Regions from separate parts of the Homo sapiens genome. Here regions 2 and 3 are each linked to region 1. The links come from fine-mapping of genetic effects on gene expression. A gene starts in region 1. Each other region holds a variant in brackets. All regions are shown on one strand. Distances are between the middles of the regions.

Region 1 (8,181 bases):
TCGTTCCATCTCCTATGCTTCTCTGCGGAGCTCAGTCCCCACCTGCCTACCCTCTCCCTCTGCAGGATCCAATATGTCCTTATTGGCAGACGTTCCGCGTTCCTCGTCTCAAAGGAAGATGCCTACAGACAGGCCGGTTAGTAGAGGGATCGGGACACAAACTTCTAGGCCGGCTTTCTGGACCACCTAGAGACCTCCGTCTCCTCTCCTGCCAAGTTTAAGCGGGAGTGGCTGAACCACGCTTGGCGAGTAGACCGCTCCCTCGCCTCCTGCCCAGTGGTTTCCATCTCCACCTGCACTGGTTCACGGATCGTCCTTGCTCAGTGAAAGACCATAAACCGTGCACTGGAGCCAACAGTTTGTTCTTGACTTCTGCAAGGTCCTGGCTCAGTGAAATTGGGAATGTGGACTGGCTTGGGATCCCTTATGAAAGGCAAGACGGGAGTGACAGGGCCGGGCCTAGAAGGGCTTGTCAACCTGGATTCTATGAATCGGCACAGGGCCCTTCTTACTGACACCCCGGATAATCACGCTTCATTTCAAGGGTCCTGTGAAGTCACAGGAATTGAACGCAAATAGCAGTAGAAATGTTAGTAAGGCTCCTTTTCCTGACAGGTGCATAGTTTCCAATAGATTATTCTACTGATTGATGTTCCTCTACTTCCCCTGTTCACTCCGATCAGTTCATCCACATATTCTGTCCTACCTGTCACTTGGCCTGCAGACTTTGGCCTGTTTCACCTTCTGCAGCACGGTTAGGATCCCGGAGCCTGTTATACTCCGGCACTCTCAGCCCCTAGTCCAGCCAACAAAAGTGGATTTGTAACCCGTGGCGGCCAGTAGGTGCCACTGCAGCCTTTAATAACCTGCTGTAAAATAACCAGGGACCACTTCAAGCATCTGTTCTGCCCCCTGCCCCCTCCCCCTGTTCCCCCCTTCCTACCCTGTTCCAAAATCTGCAGGAACCTCCCGCTTCCAGCCCGCCTGTGAGATTGGGTTTCATTTCCTGCCCCCCCTCTTAGAAGTTCTGTTGTAGACAAAGCTGGACAGGCTGACCCGTGCTGGCGCTGTTCTGAGTTTATTTTAATTGCCTGGAGTCAAGAAGATCGATTTCTGTCCCACTTGGGAGAGTAATTTTCTCCATCTCCTCCCTTCCAAATGGAAATCTCTGCTTTTCACCCTTCTCTTCTCCTCCATCTCCTCCCATTCCCAATTTTGGAACACCCCGTGGTGAGCAACACTGGAGTGATTGAGAGCAAGTGTTGCTGTTGAACCAACCAGGGCTGGAATCTCAGACTTTGACGCTTCCTAGCTGTAAGAACTTGGGCAAATTATTTAACTTCTCTCAGTCTCAGTTTCTTTCTTTGTGATGTGAGAGCAGTGATAGGGTTGCTCTAAGACCATAATGTATGTAAAGCCCTTGGGGGATAAACGTCACTACTCTGCCATTATTTAAGGGCTTGTGTTCCCAGCATATGCACCTTATCTTGGCTCCTACAGTCTCTACCTGAATCAAATTCTACCAGGCCCCAATATTCTTTTTTCCCCTTGGTATAGCCCTCAGGTGTAATGGAAATGGACTGATCTGTTATCGCTAGGTTTTGCTTCATGCTGCTTTTGTGACGATTAGGGCACCATTCACTCTATAAAGCGTTTTCTCGGCGGCAAAATGTGTCTGTCAACACCTTCCTTGCATACCTCACTAAGTTTCGAGCTTAGATGAGACAAAGTATGGTGAAAACACTCTGTAAACGCGCTAGGTGAGCAGAAGCGGGACTCTGCGGGGTGCCAGCGAGAAGGGATCTGTGCTTAACCTCCTGGAAATCTAGGAGGGTCAAGAGGTTGGAGAATCGGGCTCCTCCCCCATCGTCTTTCTCCCCAATCCTTCTATACGGACCACACCCTTCTGGTCGGCCTTTTCCCCCTAATTCCTGTAGACACAGCTGCAGGCGCCCTTTCCCTGGAATTTCCCCCTCTACCCTTCCCGGTCTCAGGAGATGCTTCGACTGCAGCCTAATGAATAGCTAATGGCCATGCTAATGAGGCTCTGGGGCTCCTCCCTCAGCACCTGATGTGCCCCACACATGAACACACACATATTGCCAGGGTCTCCTTTCTCTCCACCTTCGAGTCCCCAGCACAGTGCTCGTCACTAGACTCGAGTGGGTCGAGGCAGAGGGATGGGGACCGCGTGCACCTGGAGGGAACCACACGCGAAAGCGCCCGGTAAAGCGGGGGTTCCCGATGCGGCAGGCAGGGGGCGCGCTCCGGCCTCTCCGCAGGCTGGCGGCGGCCGGCTCCCGCAGCTTCCCCGCGGCGCTAGGGGAGAGCGCGCTGTCCCAGTCATTTATTAATCACCGTAATTAGCGGTAACGACCTCGCCGCCAGCTCCGCCCGCCCGCCACAGCTCTGCCGGGGTGGGCCGGCTGAGAGTCCCGCCGCTGAAAGACAAACTTCTAAGTTTCCTTAAAATGATCGCCGCCCCTATCCCCTCCGTAGCAAACACATCCAGCATTTTGGCTTCCTCTGGTCCTAAGTGAGTTCTTGGGAAACTTCGGGGTTCCGAAGACCAGCTGCCTGGGTGGGTCACCGAGTGACCTGGCTTGGCCGAGGCCGGCGGGAGACTGTGCCCCCTCCTCTGCCCTCCCTGCGCTGGGCCCGGGCCTTTCTTAGCTCGGACTTCCCTGCCCGTTACCAGCAACGGTTCTTCTCACCTGGGGTGGGCGTTGTAGGGGAAGGGAAGGAGGTGTAAAAAGACTCAGTAGCCATCTTCTCCCAAGCCCTCGACCTCCCGCGGGTACCCCCACTCATGTGCTCGAAGCTCCAAATTATCCCTTAGACCCCACGACCCAGGGAGGCGCTGGGAGGCGCCACTCAATCCCGGACCTCGGGACAGGAGCGCTTCTCCTTCCCTTCCACGCCGCCCTCTCACCTCATCCCCATCCCAGGATCCCATATCCCCAAGAGGCAGGGTCTCACCGTTGAGAGAGGGATCGCCGGGAGGCAGCAGGGTGTGGTTGAGCGCCGCCAGCGAGGAGTTGAAGCCCAAGAGCAGCTCGCTGGAGTTGGAGATGTCCCCGGCCAGAGAGTCCGCGAACAAGTTCATCTGCAGCAGCGTTTTCAGCAGGTAGCGCAGCATGGCTCGACCCAGCTGGGATCGGGACTGGGGGCTGGGGGCCCAGCCCCTGGGTCTGAGACCCGTGGGCTGGGAGCCGTAAGCCCCTCCACAGCCTCTGCGCGCTGCGGCAGCCACGGTGCCGCTCTCCTGCCGGTGCGCCTGGGTACGGTCGGTGCCTCTTCGTGCCCTCCTCCTTCCCTCGTCCTTCTCTCCACCCCCTAGTGCCGGAGTCCCCTGGGAGCTGGGCAGGCGGAAAGCAGGTGCCACGCCGATCACGGCGTAATTAAGGGATTAATCCGCCTCCCTCCACCCTCCCACCCTTACCTCTACAGTCACTATCCGAGCAGGAGACACGAGTAGCGTAGCGCGCGAGTTGGAGTCCCCGCCCCGCACCCCAAGCCCAGCGTTCCGTTCTGGACGCGGCGAGAGATTTTCCCTGTCTCAAAGCACCCAAGATGAGGGACGAGGCTCTGTCGGACTCTGCCCTTCTGCCCAACTTTAGAACAGGAATCTGTCCTCTCTTTTCCCGAACCTTTTGGAAACTGAGGCAAAGCGCAAGCAATGCTCCTTGCTGCCAAAGTTCTGGTTTCCATTCCCTCCCAAGTCTAGGGGTTTGGCGACGGAAGGGCAGGAGACTGGGGTGGTTTGCAGCAAGAGTTGGGAGTAGGCAGAGAATTCCAAGACAGGTCCACCTCTCTGCCCTCTGGTCCTTTGGTCTGCAGCCAGGAGGCCAGAGGATGGAGCGGCGCGCCCTGACCCGGGAGTCCTGCTCCAAACGCCCTAATCTAGGAGTTCCTGTAGGAGACTGAAAGCCAGGGAAACCCAGGCAACTGTCATTTATTTGAATCCTTTTACATTACCCTGCTTTGACATTTTTTATTAAATTGTTTTACGTTTTTGAGGAGACTGAAATGGAACCAAGGATTCTAGGACAAAAACAAAGATAATATTATTTTTGTAAAGGCATGTGGGATTGCTGCAAAATTAGTGCAAATCTGTTCAAATCGGATAGCAGTCGTCCTTCCTGGGGGGGGCGAAAAGAAAACCATGGGCCCCTACTCCCACCTCCCACTTCCAGTCGCGGTCTGCTTCTGACTTTTCTGGAGTTCTTTCTACCTGAAGACCCACCTCGACAAACTCACTTTCCTAGACAGGAGATGGCTTTGGGGTATCAGGGAAAGAGAGAGGCCGGGGCATTCCTAACCTGAGGTAAGGCCCTGCTGATTGAAGAGTCAGTGCCAGAGTTCTGGCTCAGCCGTCAGGTTCTGGGATGAGACAACTTTCATGGGGCGACTGCTTCTGACCCCAAAGGGGTCGAGATCAGAGGGGTGGGTGCTATACAGTCGCAGACTCTGGAGTAAGCAGAATCAAGAATTGAAATATTTCAGGCAGAGCTTGTTCAAGGGAACCCGAGACATTGTCAAGGGGTGGGGGGCTTGTTCCAAGCCTCCTTCCTCAGTCCAGGCGCCTGGCTGTGAGCCTCCAACTATGGGTGTTTAGGTGCCTTCCAACCCTAGCAGTTCTGGGCGGGACGTAGAAAGGCTGGAAGCACTAGGTGTGGGGGAGGGGGTAGGTGGGAGTGGGGGTGGGGCCGGATGGACCCCCCACCCCACCGCCACGCAGCGCCCTGGGAGCTGTCCTTTTCAGCACCTCATCTGCAGGTGCCTGACTAGGGCCCTGGAGCCCCCAGGGAAGACATAAATCCGAGCAGACCCTGAGGCTGAGGACTGGGGTAGGTGGGAGACGGGCTAGAGACACATCCTTTCAAAAGCAAGAAGATAATAAGAGATTTGACGCCCCTCCCTTCCTCGCTCCAGGGTGGTATTCAGATAAGAGAGAAAGTAAGGGATGTATTTCCCACCCGAAATCTATCCTTCAGGAATGACCAACACAGAAGTGGGTTCTAATTCTACGTTTGCCAAGTACAAGACGTCACCGCTTTGGATCTCAGTTTTCCCATCTGTTAAGGAGGAATTGGAGTGCTTGATCTACTCTGACCTGTGAGATTCGAGGCTCCGGGGCCCTTTGCTCCGCCCCCTGCTGACCGCGGTCACCTGGGTTCCATCACAGCAGAGGCTGAATCGGGATAGAAACCCCACGTCCTGGTACCAGGCCCTACTCTGGGGCGGAGGGGGCCAGAAACCCTCCCACCATGCGGCTCCTGCCCGGTCCTAATGCCCTGATTTGCTCCCGGCTGGCCTCTCCGCAAACACAGGGCCTGCCAGCGTCTAGGGGCTTGTCACCCTGTTAGCGGATTTGTTCCCGGAGACGGCGCAGTTAATTGGCCCTTTATGTGGGGATCAGGGCGTATTTGCTCAGGGTTCCCTGAGCGGAGGCGCGGCTCAACCCGTGAGCAAGGCTGCTTCACAGTCCCTGTCACGTGGGTTTGGAGGCTGGACAAATAGCCGGGCCACTCTACTTTCCAGGAATCTGCTGTCTCTCCTACACTTCACCTCGTCTGGGCTCTCTCTAATTTTCACTCTCCACTTTTTCTTGTTTCTCTCTGCTCTTTCCTTCTTTGTACTTCTCTTTATCTTGATGATACTCTCCTTTTAAACCAAACTCAGATCTAAGCCAAGAGGGCTGAGTTCTCCCAACTGGGGATATCAGAGAATAAATACCTCCCAACCATAACCTAAGTTCCCTCCCTTTTCCTTCCCATTCTCTAGTGTCCTTACGGCCCTGGGCTAGGCAGAGTGGAGCAGAGAGTGGGCAGAGAAGGCCCAGCAGAAGTCACACCTCCCAGCTCTTCTGCAGCCCTCTCCCCACCTTCTCTTCTTTACTGAGGGTCAGACAGGCAGCCTAGAAACTGGCCCTGCCCCTGTCCACATCCAGCTTCTCTCCTGGCTACCCCCATAGGCAGTTCTGAAAGGGGTTTGCCTCCTACTAGTCTCCTCACTGCCTGCTCTGCTCTCTGAAAATTACCAAGACAACTCTTTGTCCTTTTTCTGGAGTGGGTATGCAACTCTTTGCAACTATGTCCATTTCCTAATTTGTCAACTGTAAGTGCCTGTACAGCACCTAAAACACTGAGTAGATGCCCTGCAATTGGAGGAGCCTCAGCCGGGGTGCATTCATTCTGTTGACTTATAAATTTCCACCTTGGGCTGGAGAAAGAGTCAGAGTTGGGTTTAGAGACCCTCTCTTCTACCACCTCAGGAAACTACTTCTTTCCCAGAGTTTTACCAACAATATGTACAGTCCAGACTTTAGAAAGGGTAAGAAAAAGAAACAGAGGTTTTGAAGGAGATTTGGCAGAAAGAAGAGAGAGTAGCAGGAAGCAGGGAGGTTGGGGCGAGTTGAATTTGTAGAGTTAGGAGCTAAGTTTGTTCTGATAAGGTTACAGCATCTGATGGGAAGAAGTGTGTGTGTGTGTGTGTGTTTGCGTGTGTGTGCATGTGTGGGTTCACAGGTAGAGCCCTAGAAAAGAGCCCTGGGCCAGGAGTTGATGAGGTAATATAGAAGAGGAATATTTCTTTCCTATGGTGGTATTTTGGGTGGGTGGATTTGCAGAGGAACATGGGAAATGGGAAGGGCAAGTGATTATGAGTAAGGCAGGAACCCTACACAAGAGTGGTGTTTTGGGAATCATGAGCCTCTAAAGGAACTCTCCATCCCACCCCCCACTGGTGTGTGAGTGTGTGTGTGTGTGTTCACGTGCTAGGGGAGAGAACAGCTACCCCAGGCTAACTTTCTTGGCCTAGTGCCAGCATATCGGCCAGAGAATGTGGCTGGGAATTTTCAGTGGCCAAGCTGGGGCCATATGGGGAGGCTTCTTGGTGGTCTAAAGCCTGCATGCCGGCTGGTAGTGGATGAAGCTGCTGGCATGTAATTGCCCAGGAGTGCAGTCTGAAGACAACCCCCCATTACTACCACTGCCTCCCCCCAATGTACACACACACTGTCCGGTCCATTTGCATCCCCCCAGAGCCTGTAGCCTGCCATCACTCTCTGCCTGGACCCCTTCCCAGGACATTAATACATATTGAGTGTGAGATTGTGTGTGTGTGTGTGTGTGTGTGTGTGTGTGTGTGTTTGCTGGGAGGGGGACAAAGAAATAACATCTGCCCCTTACCCCCACTAGGGTATGCCTGTGAATGGCCCAGCAGGGCTGCTGGCTTCAGAGTGATGATGCCAGGGGGCAGCGACCCAGCCAGCAGGGGCCAGAGAACCAAACAGGAGGGGGAATCAGAGAGCAAAGAGCAGGCACCCAGCTGGAAAGCAGACAGCAGGAGCCTGCCCCCGGCAGGAGCCAGAGTGTGTTGGCTCAACCCCTATAGCTGCTGAGATAATAAGCCAAGGCCCCCTGCATGAAAGTCCCCCTTTCCCCACAGGGTTCCAGTGGAGGAGACTGTGGGGAGACACTTTGCAACACACTCTACCAAGACTGGAAATCTGGAGACAACTGGGCAGAAATGTTCACATCCCAATACAGATAAAACAAAGTCCAGGGAGAAAAAGAGCTTTCTTGGTTCTTTTTATAAAACTAGATACAGAGCAAGCTTCCATAAATATACACTTGGTGACTATACCTGATTAAATAGTTAGTCCTCACAACTACCCCTGCAGAGCCCACTAGCCTTCTCTCTCTCTCCTTTTGCATTACAGCTGCTGTAAGAAAGTACCAAAAACTAGGTGGCCTAAAACAACAGAAATGTATCCTCTCACAGGTTAGAAGCCTGAAATCAAGGTGTCAGCTGGGCCATGCTCTCCCTGAAGGCTCCAGGGAGGGATCTGTTCTTGCCTCCTCCAGCATCTGCTGATTACCAGCAGTGCTTGGCCTTCCTGGTCTTGAGGATTCATCACTCCATCTCTGCCTCTGTCTTCTTATGGCCTTCCCTGGGTGTGTGTCTCGGTGTCTCTTACCTCTTCTTATAAGGCCACCAGTCATTGGATTAGAGTCCAATTTAATCCAGCATGACTTCACCCTAACTAATTACATCTGCAAAAACCCTCATTTTCAAATGAAGTCACATTCTGAAGTTTTGGGTGAGTAGGACTTTTTTAGGGGGGACAACACATTTAACTTAGTATACCTTATTTTCCTGTATTTCCTTCCTCTT
Region 2 (8,181 bases), 83 kb before region 1:
GGTCATTTGTTATACAATGAGAGAAGTAGGAGGTAAGGGACTATGAAAAGTTGGTAGAGTCAAGAAGTTGTAGGTTCCTGTGGTGGTCTAAAGTTTGTTAGAACAGGATACTCAAAAGAATGTGCTAAGATAAGAGGTGGTCTGAGAGTAGGCTGCTTGGAGCTGAGTGTATGCAGAGGTTGTGGTTATTGGTGCTGTCAAAGTCTATGGTATGACCAAAGGAGGGAAAGCTAAGGTGGGTTAAAGAACAAGATCACTGGAGAAGAGGTCATAGAAACCAAACACCAGAGCATTGATTGGATGATCCATGAGGATACTGAAATCACCAAAAAATATAACAAGAATGATGTTGGAGAAAGCCAGAAGCAACAATCTTGAAAAGGCTTGGAGGTTGGTGGGTAAGTATAGCTTGGAAACCCAAGCATGGTATATTCTGGTGACATGAGGTTCAAAGTTGGAGGTGAGGTTAAGAAAAAGGGAGGATGTGGTTTAGCAAAAGCACTGAGTAACTGAATAGCAAGAAGGAAACCCATCCCACCTCCACCCAGAGGGGCAAGGAACAGAAAACAGCTACTATTAGGTGAGTGCAAAAGTTATTGTGGTTTTTCATTGTTGGAATTTGCCATTTGATGTTGGAATACATGCTTGAATAAATGTGGTTATGTTATACATCAGTTTAATGGGCATTTCTCACTTTTATTTTTTTGCTAATGACTTCTTGCTGTTTATGTTTATTTTAGACTATGGAAATTATGTTAGACAAAAAACAAATGCAAGCAGTTTTCTTATTCGAGTTCAAAATGGGCTGCAAAGCAGCAGAGACAACTTGCAACATCAAGAGTGCATTTGGCCCAGGAACTGCTAATGAACGTACAGTGCAGTGGTGGTTCAAGAAGTTTTGCAAAGGATGGCCAGGCGCAGCAGCTCACACCTATAATCCCAGCACTTTGGGAGGCCAAGGCATCCGGATCACTTGAAGTCAGGAGTTCGAGGCCAGCCAGGCCAACATGGTGAAACCCCATCTCTACTAAAAATAAAAAAATTAGCTGGGCATGGTGGCATGCACCTGTAATCCCAGCTACTCGGGAGGCTGAGGTGGGAGAAGCGCTTGAACCCAGGAGGCAGAGGTTGCAGTGAGCTGAGATTGTGCCACTGCACTCCAGTGACAGAACAAGACTCCGTCTCAATTTAAAAAGAAAGAAAGAAAGAAAGAAAGTTTTGCAAAGGAGCTGAGAGCCTTGAAGATGATGAGCATAGTGACCGGCCATGGGAAGTTGACAATGACCAATTGAGAGCAATCATTGAAGCTGATCCTCTTATAGCTACATGAGAAGTTGCCTAAGAACTCAATGTTGACCATTCTATCGTCACTCAGCATTTGAAGCAAATTGGAAAGGTAAAAAAGCTCGATAAGTGGATGCCTCATGAGCCAACTGAAAATAAAAAAAATATATCGTTTTGAAGTGTTGTCTTCTCTTGTTCTACACAACAATGAACCATTTCTCGATTGGATTGAGATGTGCTATGAAAAGTAGATTTTATACAACAGCTGGCAATGACCAGCTCAATGGTTGGGCCCAGAAGAAGCTCCACAGCACTTCCCAAAGCACCAAAAACAGGTCATGGTCACCGTTTGGTGGTCTGCTGCCAGTCTGATCCACTACGGCTTTCCGAATCCCAGTGAAACCATTACATCTGAGAAGTATGCTTAGCAAATCAATGAGGCACTGAAAAGTGCAACACCTGCAGCTGACAGTGGTCAACAGAAAGGACCCAATTCTTCTCCACAGCAACTACAATGCCCGACTGCATGTCGCACAACCAACCCTTCAAAAGTTGAACAAATTGATCTATGAAGTTTTGCCTCATCCACCATATTCATCTGACCTGTGGCCAACCAACTACCACTTCTTCAAGCATCTCAACAACTTTTTGCAGAGAAAACACTTCTACAACCAGCAGGATGCAGAAAATACTTTTTAAGAGTTTGGCGAATCTGGAAGCACAGCTTCTTACACTACAGGAATAAACGAACTTATTTCTCATTGGCAAAAAGGTGTTGATTGTAATGGTTCCTATTTTGATTAATAAAAATATATCTGAGCCTAGTTATAATCACTTAAAATTCATGGTCCAAAACCACAATTACTTTTTTTTTTATTATACTTTAAGTTCTGGGATACGCATGCAGAACATGCAGGTTTGTTACATAGGTATACATGTGCCATAGTGGTTTGCTGCACCCATCAACCTGTCATCAGTCTATCTTTTTTGTTAATCTTTGCAAAAAACCAGCTCCTGGATTCCTTGATTTTTTGAAGAGTTTTTCCTGTCTCTATCTCCTTCAGTTCTGCTCTTATCTTAGTTATTTCTTGTTTTCTGCTATTTGCTCTTGCTTCTGTAGCTCTTTTCATTGTGATGTTAGGGTGTCAATTTTACATCTTTCCCACTTTCTCCTGTGGGCATTTAAGTGCTATAAATTTCCCTCTAAACACGGCTTTAGCTGTGTCCCAGAGATTCTGGTACATTGTGTCTTTGTTCTCATTGGTTTCAAATAACTTATTTATTAATGTCTTAATTTCATTATTTACCCAGTAGTCATTCAGGAGCAGGTTGTTCAGTTTCCATGTAGTGCGGTTTTGAGTGAATTTCTTAATCCTGAGTTCTAATTTGATTGTACCATGGTCTGAAAGACTGTTATGATTTCCGTTCTTTTGCATTTGCTGAGGAGTGTTTTGCTTCCAATTATGTGGTCAATTTTAGAATAAGTGCGATGTGGTGCTGAGAAGAATGTATATTCTGTTGATTTGGGGTGGAGAGTTCTGTAGATGTTTGTTAGGTGTGCTTGATCCAGAGCTGAGTTCAAGTCCTGAATATCCTTGTTAATTTTCTGTCTCGTTGATCTGTCTGATATTGACAATGGAGTGTTACAGTCTCCCACTATTATTGTGTGGGAGTCTAAGTCTCTTTGTAGGTCTCTAAGAACTTGCTTTATGAATCTGGGTGCTCCTGTATTGGGTGCATATATATTTAGGATATTTAGCTCTTTTTGGTGTATTGATCCCTTTACCATTATGTAATACTCTTCTTTGTCTCTTTTGATCTTTGTTGGTTTAAAGTCTGTTTTATCAGAGACTAGGATTGCAACTCCTGCTTTTTTTTTGCTTTCCATTTGCTTGGTAAATATTCCCCTATTCCTTTATTTTGAGCCTATGTGTGTCTTTGTACATGAGATGGGTCTCCTGAGTACAGCACACTGATGGGTCTTGACTCTTTATCCAATTTGCCAGTCTGTATCTTTCAGTGGGGGCATTTAGCCCATTTATATTTAAGGTTAGTATTGTATGTGTGAATTTGATCCTGTCAAATTATGACGCTAGCTGGTTATTTTGCCCATTAGTTGATGCAGTTTCTTCACAGTGTTCATGGTCTTTACAATTTGGTATGTTTTTGCAGTGGCTGGTACCAAAACCCCAATTACTTTTGCACCAACCTAATACTTGAGAAGGCAACAGAGAGGTTGAATTGCACACCTCCATACACAGACACATACTCACACACCAACACTTGGGAAGAAGTGTTGTTAGGTATCTCCTTGCTTTCTTCAACCCACCACCTCAAGGTCTGTGCCTCCCACTAGCACCTGGGCCAGTGGTTTCATAATAATCTACATTCTTTTTTTTTTTTTGAGACAGAGTCTTGCTCTGTCACCCAGGCTGGAGTGCAGTGGTGCAATCTTGGCTCACTGCAACCTCCACCTCCC[G/A]AGTTCAAGCGATTCTCCTGCCTCAGCCTCTCCAGTAGCTGGGATTACAGGCATCTGCCACCATGCCCAGCTAATTTTTGTATTTTCAGTAGAGATGGGGTTTCACCATGTTGGCCAGGCTGGTCTTGAACTCCTGACCTCAGGTCATCTGCCTGCCTCAGCCTCCCAAAGTGCTGGGATTACAACTGTGAGCCACCACACCCAGCCAATAATCTACATTCTTGATATGTCCAGAGAATTCACATCTAAGGCCCTGTTCCCATTTTCTGACCTCTTCAGGAATGCTTATATTCTATATAACCAGAGTTGGTTTCTCAGCAAGGAAACTGTTTGCTTAGAAATGTCTACCTTCTTCAGGAACTTAAAAGAATGGATATTGCTGGCACCAAAGTGTTGAGGCCCTGCTCCAGAGCACTCCTCATCGGAGTTGGATATAATCCCTTTTCTGTGTCTGGGGGATCCCTGGACATGTCTGCACAAAGCCCCGAGTCACTGGGTCCTTGGCAGCAGTCCACCCCACACAGAACTGATTGTTTCATGAGCATGAGGGAGCAATTTGCATTTTTGGTCACTACTTTCCTATTTGTTGCTGGCTGACCCACACCTGTAACAAATTAGAAAACTTGGTCACATGTCAGTTCTCAGGGCATAGCCTAAGGAGAACATCTATAGAAGTGAGAAACCTGCCTATCTCTACTCTCAGGGGAACTGGATTTTGGGGAATGAAGCCTCAGGCAGCTGAGTCATGGCCACTTTCAGCCTGTCTCCCAAGTTTCAGCAGGGTGTTCCAAGGCTAACTGATATTCTGGGCTATTTCCTGAAAATGGACCATAGCACTGTCCTTTTTCTTCCTCCTCCTTATCCACCTCTCAAAATAACCTTTCTAACTAGGATAACTAGAGAGTCCTTCTGCTTGCCTGTGCAGACCAGGTTTCTGCAGTAGCATTTCACTGTAAATGGCACCAATAGCAGATTGCTGCAGTTAAGCCCAGTTTTCTCAATAGCATCTGCTGTACTACTTATTGCAAAAGATTCTCTAGTTTTACCATGGATGCAGAAGTCTTTTTCTCCTTACTCTTGGTGTGTGATTAAAAGAAAATTAACAGGGATTTCAGCATCTCTCTACATTACCAAGTATTCATCTAGGAAGTTGAGAGATGCACTATCCAGATCTTCCAAGGAAGGGCTTTTTGGCTGTCTACTCCCTCCACGACAGAGCGAGACTCTATCTTAGAAATAAATAAATAAATAAATAAGTCCTTCTTTCTGTTCCCTGTTGACACTGTTGAGCCTCTGAATTATCTCAATGCTACCCCATCTCTAGTCTTTCCAAATACATAAGCCAATAAAGTTCTTTATTATTAATGCCAATTTACATTAGGTTTTATATTATTTGTAACGTAGACCATAGACAAGCTCTGAGATAAGTCCATTGGTAAATATTAGAGACTAAAAGAGACGAGCAGAATGAGTCAGAGCTACCTACAAAAATTGGTTCCTGGAGCGGCCTCAAAACTGAGCCCTTCAATTCCAGATCCAGGTCTTATGTATTCCTGCAATATGCCTCTCCTCTGATGGTTGATGGTACTTCACTGGGATATCTATTCTTTGAAGCCAAAGAAGCTTGACTAAGGTAGGAGACTTTTCCTTTTTTTTTGAGACAAATTCTCACTCTGTCGCACAGGCTGGAGTGCAGTGATGCGATCTCGGCTCACTGCAACCTCTGCCTCCCAGGTTCAAGAGATTCTTCCACCTCAGCCTCCCGAGTAGCTGGGATTACAGGCATGTACCACCACACCCAGCTAATTTTTTGTATTTAGTAGAGTCAGGGTTTCGCCATGTTGGTCAGGCGAGACTTTTACTTTAAAGCTAGTTTTAGCCAAAATTATTTTATCTATCCTTGTTACTTATATTATTCACTCTATGCTTGATTTTAAAAAAAAATCTCTTGAAGTATAAAAATTGTAATCATTAAAGATACTTAAAAAATATGTTGCAGGCTCTAAAAGCAACTTTTAAAAAGGAATTTAAAAAATGTAACCCTTAAAAGGTGTAAGACATGAGGCCTTAAAAAAGAAAATAAGAGGAAAAAGTTCTGGAGAAGAGAGTGTCATGGCTGCACAGCAACGTGAATGTAGTAAATCCCACTGAAATGGACACCTTAAAAAGTTAAAATGATAAACTGTATATTTTATATATTTTACCACAATAAAAATAAATGGAAATAGATTTTATTTTAAAAAAAGCAGTAAGGCTTTCTAGATAACTATTTGGAGAAAGCCAAGTTATTCATTTGTGTGTGTTCAGCTATGATTATTTAAATTATCTACTATTAATAGTCACATTCTCTATATCCCAAATCTTTGGGGATAGCATATTACAGTGGAGAAAGGGGTTTTAGAGCTAAACTTGGGTTTATGTTCCAGTTCTGCAATTTACTATCTGTGGTCAAGTCACATTATCCAAGTCTTTATTTCTAGATATGTAACATATGTAATAACAATTGACCCTTGAGGGTTTGTTTGTGTTTTGTGAGAAGTAATGTTACATATGTAAAATATATCATGCATAATAGACTTTCAGTAAATGCTTGCTAACTTTTTTTTAGGAAGCAAGATAGAGTCATAAAACCTTAGAAGATTTTGATTTGTCTTCCCAGCATCCCTTCTCCCGCTTTTTCTAGTAATGGCCCCACCTGTGACTGTGGGGTTAAGTACATGGCCCAGCCTGGGATAGTGTTCTAGTCTCCTTGCTACAGTGATTGATCCAGAGCTGTGCATGTGACCTAAGCCATGGCCTTTTGCCAAGATTATTTTTTAACTAGTTCCATCAAGAGTCTTCTTCTCCTGCCCGCATGACAAGCTGCACTGTCCAATATGTTAACCACTAGATACATGTGTTAAGTTTAATTACAATTAAATGAAATTTATAATGTATTTCCTCAGTCCCACTAGCCACACGGGGCTAATTAATGGCTACTATATTTGACAGCACAGATATAAAATACTGTCTTATTTCCAATTATTCCTGCTCCCTGAAAAATTTTGTTACATAATGCAAGAAATTCTTCCCTTTTTGCTTCAGATAGTTCCAGTTGAACTTCAGTCACTTACAATCAAATGATCTTGACAAATCACATTCCTTAGTTTGTCGGGCCACAAACCAGATGCAGAATCTTGGAGGCCTGACTTTGGCATGGATCTTTAAACTAGACAAAGCCAAATCCTGTAAGTACTGCAACAAGGGGAAAATTGGGGGCTGTCTTCAAGACACCTCTGCTGACAACTTAGCTAGGGCCTCCTTTTAAGAAATGTGGTCCCTCCCCATATTGAATCCTGTGTATCACAAATCTATCTTCTTAGTGTCCCTGGCCTAACCTGTGGGGGCCCAGTTTCCCTTGCTTACTAAGCTTTTTTTTTTTTTTATGGTCCTGTCACCTGCCTGATCCCTTTTCTCACATCTTGTCTCAGAACTCTCCTTTTCCTACTTAGTTTTTACTTCTGGGCCTGGCTGAAGGCAACCTCTTTCAGGGGTACAGCATTATGAACACTAGACAGGAAGCACAGCTGAGTCTAAGCTGTGCCAACTTGCAAATGTGAAGGAAACCTCTTTCAGGGGTACAGCATTATGAACATTAGACAGGAAGCACAGTTGAGTCTAGGCTGTGCCAACTTGTAAAATGTGTGACTTGGAGCAGGTTATTTAACCTCTCTAAGCTTCATGATCCTCCTTGAAAAATGGAAAAAAAAATCCCACTGCACAGCGTTGTTAGAAGGCTAAATAAAATAATATTCTAAAAGATAATTTGTAAAGGGCAATGCAAATGTTTTATCAATTATACTTGCTTATAGATGTAGGTGCAGCCTTCCCAGCTATAATATATTTCAGCTCCTAGACAGGGATCCAGGGATGGTGTCGTCTATTACTTTTGAATGTGCCGCCTTCCTCCTCTTCCACATCCCACCACTTTTATTAATGTTTGGAACATAGAGTGTTCTTCACACAGTAGGCAATTATCAGATGCTGGCCAGCTGATTCCCATTTCTGAGCCTCCCTCTTTGGTAGGAGGGTGAACGACGGCAGAGGGCAGCGAATCCTTCCCCTGACACGGTTGGTGGGTGGACACCATCTGAGGATCTAGGAGAAGGGAAACAGTGAAGGCTTTCATGAGTTGGGGTGTAATTTGTGGCTTCCCCATGATTTTTCAACCTGTTTGTATTTAAGCACTGAAGCTTTACAAGAACAGAACTCCAGAGATATTCTCCAGAATGTCCTTGCTGCATCTTAAATAGGTCAGCAAAAGCTGGATCTTTCCAGCCCTTTAATACCAATTAATTTCTCCTCTTTGTTCCTCTGGAGAGTGGCTGAATAGAGCACGTTTAGCAACCATGGACACAAGCCTGAGTCCCTCTCACTTT
Region 3 (8,181 bases), 81 kb after region 1:
TAGTTAGGATTCCTTTTTCCCCATTGGTTTATATGTCAGTGTGTTAGTCACCATATTCTTGCCAAGGCTATAAATCTTTCAAAATGATTAATTAATTGGCTTTTTTTTTTTTTTTTGAGACAGGGTCTTGCTCTGTTGCCCAAGCTAGAGTGCGGTGGCACGATCACCTCAACCTCCCCAGGCTCAGGTGATCCTTGCACCTCAGCCTCCTGGTAGCTGGGCCTACAGGCATGCAGCACTAAGCCCAGCTAATTGTTGTATTTTTTTGTAGAGATGGGGTTTTGCCATGTTGCCCAGGCTGGTCTCTTAACTCCTGGGCTCAAGCAATCTGCCCACTTTGGCCTCCGAAAGTGCTGGGAGCCACCACCCCCAGCACTAATTGGCTTTTATCTATAAAGGAAGAACTGAGCAAAAAAGTCAAAGAAGCTATGGCAGTATAGCCAGATGTTTGTGAAACTCGAATAATGTATGAGCAAAAAGATGTTTATTTTCATAGGTACTCCTAGGTATAAACTCCTTTTACCTATAGAGTTCACATGTTAACACAAACAGTTGTGTGAAATACTTTGAATAAAATGAAAAATCAAAAAAATCATTGAGACCAGCCTGGCCAGTATGGTGAAACCCCGTATCTACTAAAAATACAAAAATTAGCCGGGTTTGGTGGTGCACACCTATAGTCCCAGCTACTCGGGAGGCTGAGGCAGAACAATCACTTGAACCCAGGAGGTGGAGGTTGCAGTGAGCCAAGATCGTGCCACTGCACTCCATCCAGCCTGGGCAACACAGCAAGACTCCAACTCCAAAAAAAGAAAAGTCAAGTTGGCATTCGTTTAATGATGCTTTAGATGATGTGGTTTAGCTGAAGCTTGCTTTTCTCAACATGACTCTGACACTGATTGCTAGGGTAAGGGTTCTTTTGAGTATGTTACTCCTACATGTTATTCCTACCCGTGTTGCGCCTCGTGATACCACACTTTGCTGCACTACTTTATTTGAACTAACCTTAATTCATAAGGCCCCTTGGTCTCCATATGGTGTGACTGTATCATTTTTGTAATAATTATAATAATAATGCAAACATTTACTGAGTGCAGGCAATTGAGCAGACACTTTTAAATGCTGTTTTCTCATTTAATACAGCAAATCTATGATGGAGGTACTGTTACCAGCCCCACCATATAGATGAAGAAATTAAGGCACAGATAGATTAATTTGTCACAAAGCTTGCAGGTGGTGACACCAAGCAGTGTTTCTCTGGAACCCATGCTCTTCTTAACCACTTGCTTATATCACCTTTTTCTGAATCAGCCCATCTTTATTAAATTTTGACAATTGAAGTCATGTTTTTGGCAACGACGTGATTATCAACATTCATAAATACGATACCAAAATCATATAGTAACACCCAGATGGACAGCATTATGCTGATATTTCTTGTCATTGAAATGAAAAGAATTTTTTAAATTCTTGGAGATAATTTATCGTTTCCTAAGATTAGAAACACAAGGAGATTTGGAAGTCCTGAGGAAGAATTTAAGATAAGTATTGAAACCTAATAAGTAAAGACTTAATTGTATTCATTCAGTCATTCATTCAAGATCTCAGATAAATGATGGCATTTATTGGATCACCAACTCCTCCAAAAAGAAGTAAGTTTGAATTATAGGAGCAGAAACACAATGTAGAATTACTTTTTGACAGTAAAAGCAGGTAAGGATGTGGCTTATCAAAGGAGGCTATGGAATGTTCACTACCTTATGCCTGCCATTGTTTACCTAATGTGTAAATGGTTTGGGTGCTTCTTAGAGATAGATGATGGGGATGAGATGAACTGTTTTTTAATATATGATATACCAAACAAAACATATCAGCATATTGAGAAAGCTAAAAGTAGAATCAGGAAATAAGAAAACAGAGAATGCCAGCTTGGCGTGGTGGTGCACTCCTATAGTCCCAGCTACTCGGGAGGCTCAGGCAGGAGGATCACTTGAGCCCAGGAGTTTGAGGCTGTTGTGCATAATGCTTGCCCCTATGAATAGTCACTGCACTCCAGCCTGGGCAACACAGACCCCATACTAAAAAAAAAAAAAAAAAAAAAAGAAGAAATGATGCAGGGCAAATAGCAGTAACCTAGGTAAATATGTTTACTTAAACTAAATATTAAAATGAGCTATGAGCTTCCTGGCAATGGTAGCAAAAAAGTAAATACAGTGACTTGCCATAATTTTCAGTGTCTTCTGAAGAGAAGTATACCAGGTCTTAGTTTTGAAACCAAAGATGAACTTACATTAAAGACACTGAAAGTGACTTTGGATAAGCTCTTAATGTTTCTCTGCCTTGTTAATAATTTTCTTGTCTGTAAAATAGGGGTGTACCATATATAAATATGATACATATATCTTAATATATATGTAATATATACATAAGATACATATATCTTAATATATATATAACATGCTACCCAGATCCCTCTTCCAGGAATGAGACGCTAGTCCCCCCCCAGCTGTCTGGAATGCTGACTGCTGGTGGCTTCTGGTTGATTTCTTCAGAATTTCACTCTGCCCAAGGCAACTGTCTCACCCAAGGTGAGGGCCCCCCACTCTCTGGTGGCAGCCTGAATCCAATGACTGGTCAGTGCTGAAATACCAAGGTCCAACCTTGCCTCAATTCGGTATAACTCTGAAGGACAACCTGAGTTCCATACCTCATTGTAGGATTAGCAGAGGCTGCTGTTGCAACTCTACTTTAACTTCTTTCTGTGCCCAGCCCTGCTTCTCAGTCTCTCACATGTGTGGTTCCCAAGAGCCTTCCCCAGCATACCTGCACAGTCTCCTCCGACTCTCTTTCCAGGGACACTCTCTTTTAACATTATTATTAAGTAGGAATGATCATGTAAATTGCTTAGCCCAAATCTCAGCACTCAGTTGGCACTCAGGAAATGGTAGCTATGATTTACCTTCATTACATGGCACGTTGAGCCATGTAAGGAAAATGTTTGGTTTTTGTAGAAGGTACAGAAATATTTTTTCATATGGTCATTTCTCTTAGCAGTCTTTATAAAGCTAAGAATAGAATATAAAAATTCTACCAAATGAGCTATAAAAATAGTTATGATTGCCTGAATTTATTTCTAACAACTTCCTAACTAAGTTCAGATCACCCAGGATAGTTGCTTTTAATAAAACATGCTTATTTTCAGGTTTTTCTTAGAAAGGATATGTGTCAGGATATGAAGATGTATTCTTTTCTTGCATTGGTGACCTGTAGTTTACACTGTGTAAATGCAAAAAATATATATTTTTTGAATGTTTACATTTTCACAAGTTAATGAATCTGGATTTAATGTTTGTACCCAGAGGTCTTGAGGGAAGATTTCAGATAACCTTAGTTTTTGTATGATTTTATCTGCCTATCAGGATTCTTTTTCTCATAACCAAATGTGTAAAATCTACTAATGGAAACATCTCTATTATAGGTTATCTTTGCACTATAGATGGTAGTTTTTAGTGAGAAAATAACTACAGAACTGAGAGAATCACATGGTCAACAGACGAAAGGAATAAAGTGGCCTACTGCTTCAGGGGAAGCCTGCTCTGCACAGTCTCCCTTTTAAACATTGGTCTCATGAATGGAAACACCTTCGTATTTGGGAAGCAATACGATGTTGTAATGGTAAAGCTGTGTGCGGATTTTTGAGGTGGCGGGGGGGGGGTTTAATTTTTAGACATGGTTGTCCATGGAATAATTAGTTCGTAGTGGAGGGTGTTTGGGAGTACTTTAACGAAGACTGGTTCTCCCCTGCTATGCCAGAAATATTTTAGATAATTTTCTTGCATGTGTTTTAGATATCACATACTAATAAAAGTATCATTTTTAGTGTATCTGAATACCTCTTTGATGTAGTCCCCCAAGGTGTGAACTGAGAAAAAGATTCAAAGAGGTGCTGACTTAGCAACTTCAGAGGTGATGTAGGAGGTCAAATGAAAATAGCCTCTAATCCCAGTCAGTTCTTTGCCAACAACTGATTTTTTTTTTTTCCCTTTCAGGTGAGGAGGAAGTTCTAGACAAATAGTGTTATCTGCTATCTTTGGTGACTGTAGCTACTACCTATTGCTGCTTATATACTGAAATAGTTCAGTATACCCTACTTTTTTGACCTGTATTCTTGTAAATAGAAAAGCACTTGAGAATTCCTTGTCTTGAAGGATTCTTGTACCCTAAAGAAGCTCTTATACATGAACATGCATGCTAGGTGTGACCTTTACAAGTATTACTGCTCATCTGAGATCATTGTATGAGTGTCCATGAGAAGCACACATAGCATAGGGTCAGAAGCTTTATGGTTACATGAATTGAGTTCCTTGAGCCATGGAAGATGTTTGTTTTTAACAATTAGTATTGTCCTTCTTTAGGGTTTTTTTCTTAGTAATCTGAATGGGCACGACCCTCAGCTGCTAGCATGAAGGAACCTAGAAAACTTAGAACTTGATATTCATTGACAATCAAAATTTCCTGAATTTTATATTTTTTTAAAGTTTTGTTTTTACTTTCTTTTATTTTTTATTTTTATTTTTTGAGACAGAGTCTCACTCTGTCACTCAGGCTGGAGTGCAGTGGCACAGTCTCAGCTCACTGCAACCTCTCCCTCCTGGGTTCAAGCAATTCTCATGCCTCAGCCTCCCAAGTAGCTGGGACTACAGGTGTGCATCACCACACTCGGCTAATTTTTGTATTTTTAGAAGAGACAGGGTATCTCCTGTTGGCCAGGCTG[G/C]TCTAGAACTCCTGGCCTCAAGCGATCTGCCTGCCTTGGCCTCCAAAAGTGCTGGGATTATAGGCTTGAGCCACTGGACCTGGCCCTGAATTATTAATATATATTCTAGGCAAGAATCTCTTCTCATGGAGGCAGTATTGACCAGTTATAAACACAAAGTGAGTGAGTCATTGATAGCCAGATTCAGAATGAAGTGCAAGCTGATAGGATTCAGTCCTGGACAGTTCCCCACAAAGACTGAGGCTCCAGAGAGGTAAGATCTCTTCGTTTGTGGTGGTCATTCTGTTTGACCCGATTAAAATCAGAAAGCAATCGAGTCTTTCCCCCTTCCTGTCTTTGACAGAACTACCTTACATTCTTGACTATTTCATTTGCTTGTTTACTTTGTAAGGCATAAGAAATAAAATTTGGACAGGGCTGCAGAGCTCCCTTTGGCACGTGGCCTGCCCGCCCAAAGAAAGGTATAACAACAAGAATGATAGATATTTTTAAAATAGCCTTGCCCAGCTATTTTCAAAAGGTTTCAGGAGCCCCGCCCATCAAGATTCATTGATTTGATAATTTATTTTAGTTAAGCAATGAATTTTCTGATGTTCTTTGCTAAGAAAAATTTTATCCTCTTGCTAGTGATTTACTACTTTAAAATTAGCTTAATTATGTATTGAATAAATATATATTTTGAATAAGCCTCATGTGATTAGCACTGTTCTAGGCTTGGGGAATAGAGACAACCAAGATAGATAAAATCCTTACCTCATGGAGCTTACAATCTAGTGAAATAACTTCTTAGGAAACATTAAAGTTTCTTAAGTGGCATTTGATAATTTTCATATGCCAAACTCCTCTTAAAGGAATACTTATCTTTGGGCCTTGCTTCCTCATTTGTTAAGTGAGGAAGATGAACTAGATGATCTCTGAGGTTCTTTTATGTTCAGAACTTGTATTACGTTTTTCTATTTTTATTTTTTTTAGAGACAGGGGTCTCACTCTGTTGCCCAAGCTGGAGTGCAGTGGCGTGATCATGGCTCAATGCAGCCTCTACCTGCTAAGCCCAAGGGATCTTCCTGCCTCAGCCTCCCCAGTAGCTGAGACTGCAGGTGCACACCACCACACCCAGACTAATTTTTTTTTTTTTTTTAAGTAGAGACAAAGTCTTGCTATATTGACCAGGCTGGTCTTGACTCCTGGCCTTGAAGCGTCCTCCAGCCTTGGCCTCCCAGAGTACTGGAATTATAGGCATGAGCCACTGATTCTGGCTCCATAATGTTTAGAAGATGGAGCCTAGTTTGTAATTAGAACCTTAGGCAATTCCACCCACCTTTAGTGGATCAGTATATTACAAAAAGTGTTATAAAGAGACATTTGCCAAAGACAGTGATATCAGCAGGTGATGAAGAGTATCAAATGCTGCAGGGAAGTTAAATGAGTTAAGGACAAAGTTTGAGCTTCATTCAGTTATTAAGAAGACATTGGCCAGGCGTGGTGGCTCACGCCTGTAATCCCAGCACTTTGGGAGGCCAAGGCAGGCAGATCACCTGAGGTCAGGAGTTTGAGACCAGCCTGGCCAACATAGTGAAACCCCGTCTCTACTAAAAATATAAAAATTAGCCGAGCGTGGTGGTGGGTGCCTGTAGTCCCAGCTACTCGGGAGGCTGAGGCAAGAGAATCACTTGAACCCAGGAGGCAGAGGTTGCAGTGAGCCCAGATTGTGCCACTGCACTCCAGCCTAGGCGACAGAGCGAGAATCTGTCTCAAAAAAAAAAAAAAAAAAGACATTGATGATCACAATAGGAACAGTTTTAATAGAGTCATAAATTAGACTGTGATCCCATTGGGTTGAGGATTGAATTATTGTAGACATTGCCTATTCCTGTGAGACCCTTTAGACATTAGGCAGTGTTAAAGCTGGAAGATGTGAGAGCTTAGCCATAGAGACTACTAAGGAACGTAGTCAAGACTTACTTTACTATACTTGTTTCTGGATGTGTGTTTTTCTGTTTTAAGTTGTTACTTGAGGTAGTTTATCTGGCATCTATATCGATAAGTTAATCAGACAATAAGTGATCAAGTACTGTGTGATGCAGTTGGAACAGATAATCAGCATAACGAATCATTTAATATCACTTAATTATTACTTCAGAAAAAAGATTTCTTGCCCAGCAGGTAGAAAGAAGTGCTATATTTTTTAGAAGAGTAAAGTAATATCGTTGTATGCTTTCACTTTTTTTTTTTTTTTTTTTGAGACAGAGACTCCCTCATGTCGCCCAGGCTGGAGTGCAGTGGCACGATCTTGGCTCACTGCAACCTCCACCTCTCAGGTTCAAGTGATTCTCCTGCCTCAGCTTCCCGAGTAGCTGGGACTACAGGTGCCCACCACCACGCCTGGCTGATTTTTGTCTTTTTAGTAGAGACGGGGTTATGCCATATTGGCCAGGCTGGTCTCAAACTCCTGACCTCAGGTGATCCGCCCACCTTGGCCTCCCAAAGTGCTGGGATTACAGGCATGAGCCACCGCACCCGGCCCTTGTATGCTTTTACTGATAGAAATTATTTCCTTCAAGAAACGGGAATTTGGCTAATTTACCTCTTAAAGGAAATTAATGCTGCTTTATCTAAATGAACAGAATAGTGAGTGAACTGATAATTGTACTTAAAGTAATTGTTCCAATCTTTAGAATCTCCTATAAAATCTAAGATACAAGTTTACCTTATTTTAGGGTTTCAAACTAATGTATGTTATATTTTATGGAGGAAAGAACTACATAATGCAGAGCAGAATTTTTTAACGACGTTCTTGTATGGGTTCTTTAGTGAGTCCAGGTACCCCCTTGAAATCGTATGGGACAGGTTGTGTATGTGTGCATTTTTCTGAGGAGTGGATCCATGACTCAAAAAGGTTAAGAACTTCTGCCCTGGAAAGGAAAAGCAAAAGATTGAAGAATAAAAACATTTTGTATTTGCCAAAACTTGTTCTGTAGCAGTAAGTGTGAAACAAGTTTGCTACATTTTTCTTTTTGGTTTTACTTGGTTGGGGCTTTTTTGTTTGGTTGGTTTTAAAGGATTTAGGGGATTGGCAAGTCAGTTTGTCAGATGTCAATGAACAGAAAACCTAAGAAAAAAGGTAGCAAAAGTTCTGCTGGCCCCAGATGGATTTTGCCTTAAGTAATTTCCTAATCATTAGTTACAGCTCTGTGTCAAAAGATGTACATAGAAATTTATGCTAGATTCTTAACATCTTTCTTACTGTGTGCAGAAATGTTTTTTTATTTATGTATGCTACATAAGATATTGTCTTTCCTACTTTTATGCTCACAGTAACAAAATATAGCTCAAGAAATTAATGTTTTTCTTAAAGATATTAAATGGTGTTTCGTTGCCTCAATTAACTAAGAGCAACTAGTTTTAAC

What was found.
Region 2: its variant is fine-mapped to the expression of ROBO3 in whole blood (INTERVAL, PIP above 0.99).
Region 3: its variant is fine-mapped to the expression of ROBO3 in whole blood (INTERVAL, PIP above 0.99).

The regions. Positions count from the first base shown.
Region 1 is chr11:124,860,536-124,868,716 of GRCh38, reverse strand. ROBO3 (roundabout guidance receptor 3) reads right to left here and starts at 3,285. Exons shown (of 28, transcript NM_022370.4): 1 at 2,980-3,285. The coding sequence starts at 3,139. RefSeq lists enhancers at 1-243, 2,293-2,969, 5,309-5,810.
Region 2 is chr11:124,943,119-124,951,299 of GRCh38, reverse strand. It overlaps CCDC15-DT (CCDC15 divergent transcript), which reads left to right. Exons shown (of 3, transcript XR_948134.3): 3 at 741-2,108. It overlaps LOC107984406 (a long non-coding RNA gene), which reads right to left. Exons shown (of 2, transcript XR_001748429.3): 2 at 7,710-7,900. Among named protein-coding and RNA genes, the nearest start is that of CCDC15-DT, 6.8 kb to the left of the region's middle. The variant G/A (reference allele first, on the strand shown) is at 3,764.
Region 3 is chr11:124,780,017-124,788,197 of GRCh38, reverse strand. The region is part of intron 1 of MSANTD2 (Myb/SANT DNA binding domain containing 2); the gene reads left to right. Among named protein-coding and RNA genes, the nearest start is that of MSANTD2, 16 kb to the left of the region's middle. The variant G/C (reference allele first, on the strand shown) is at 4,775.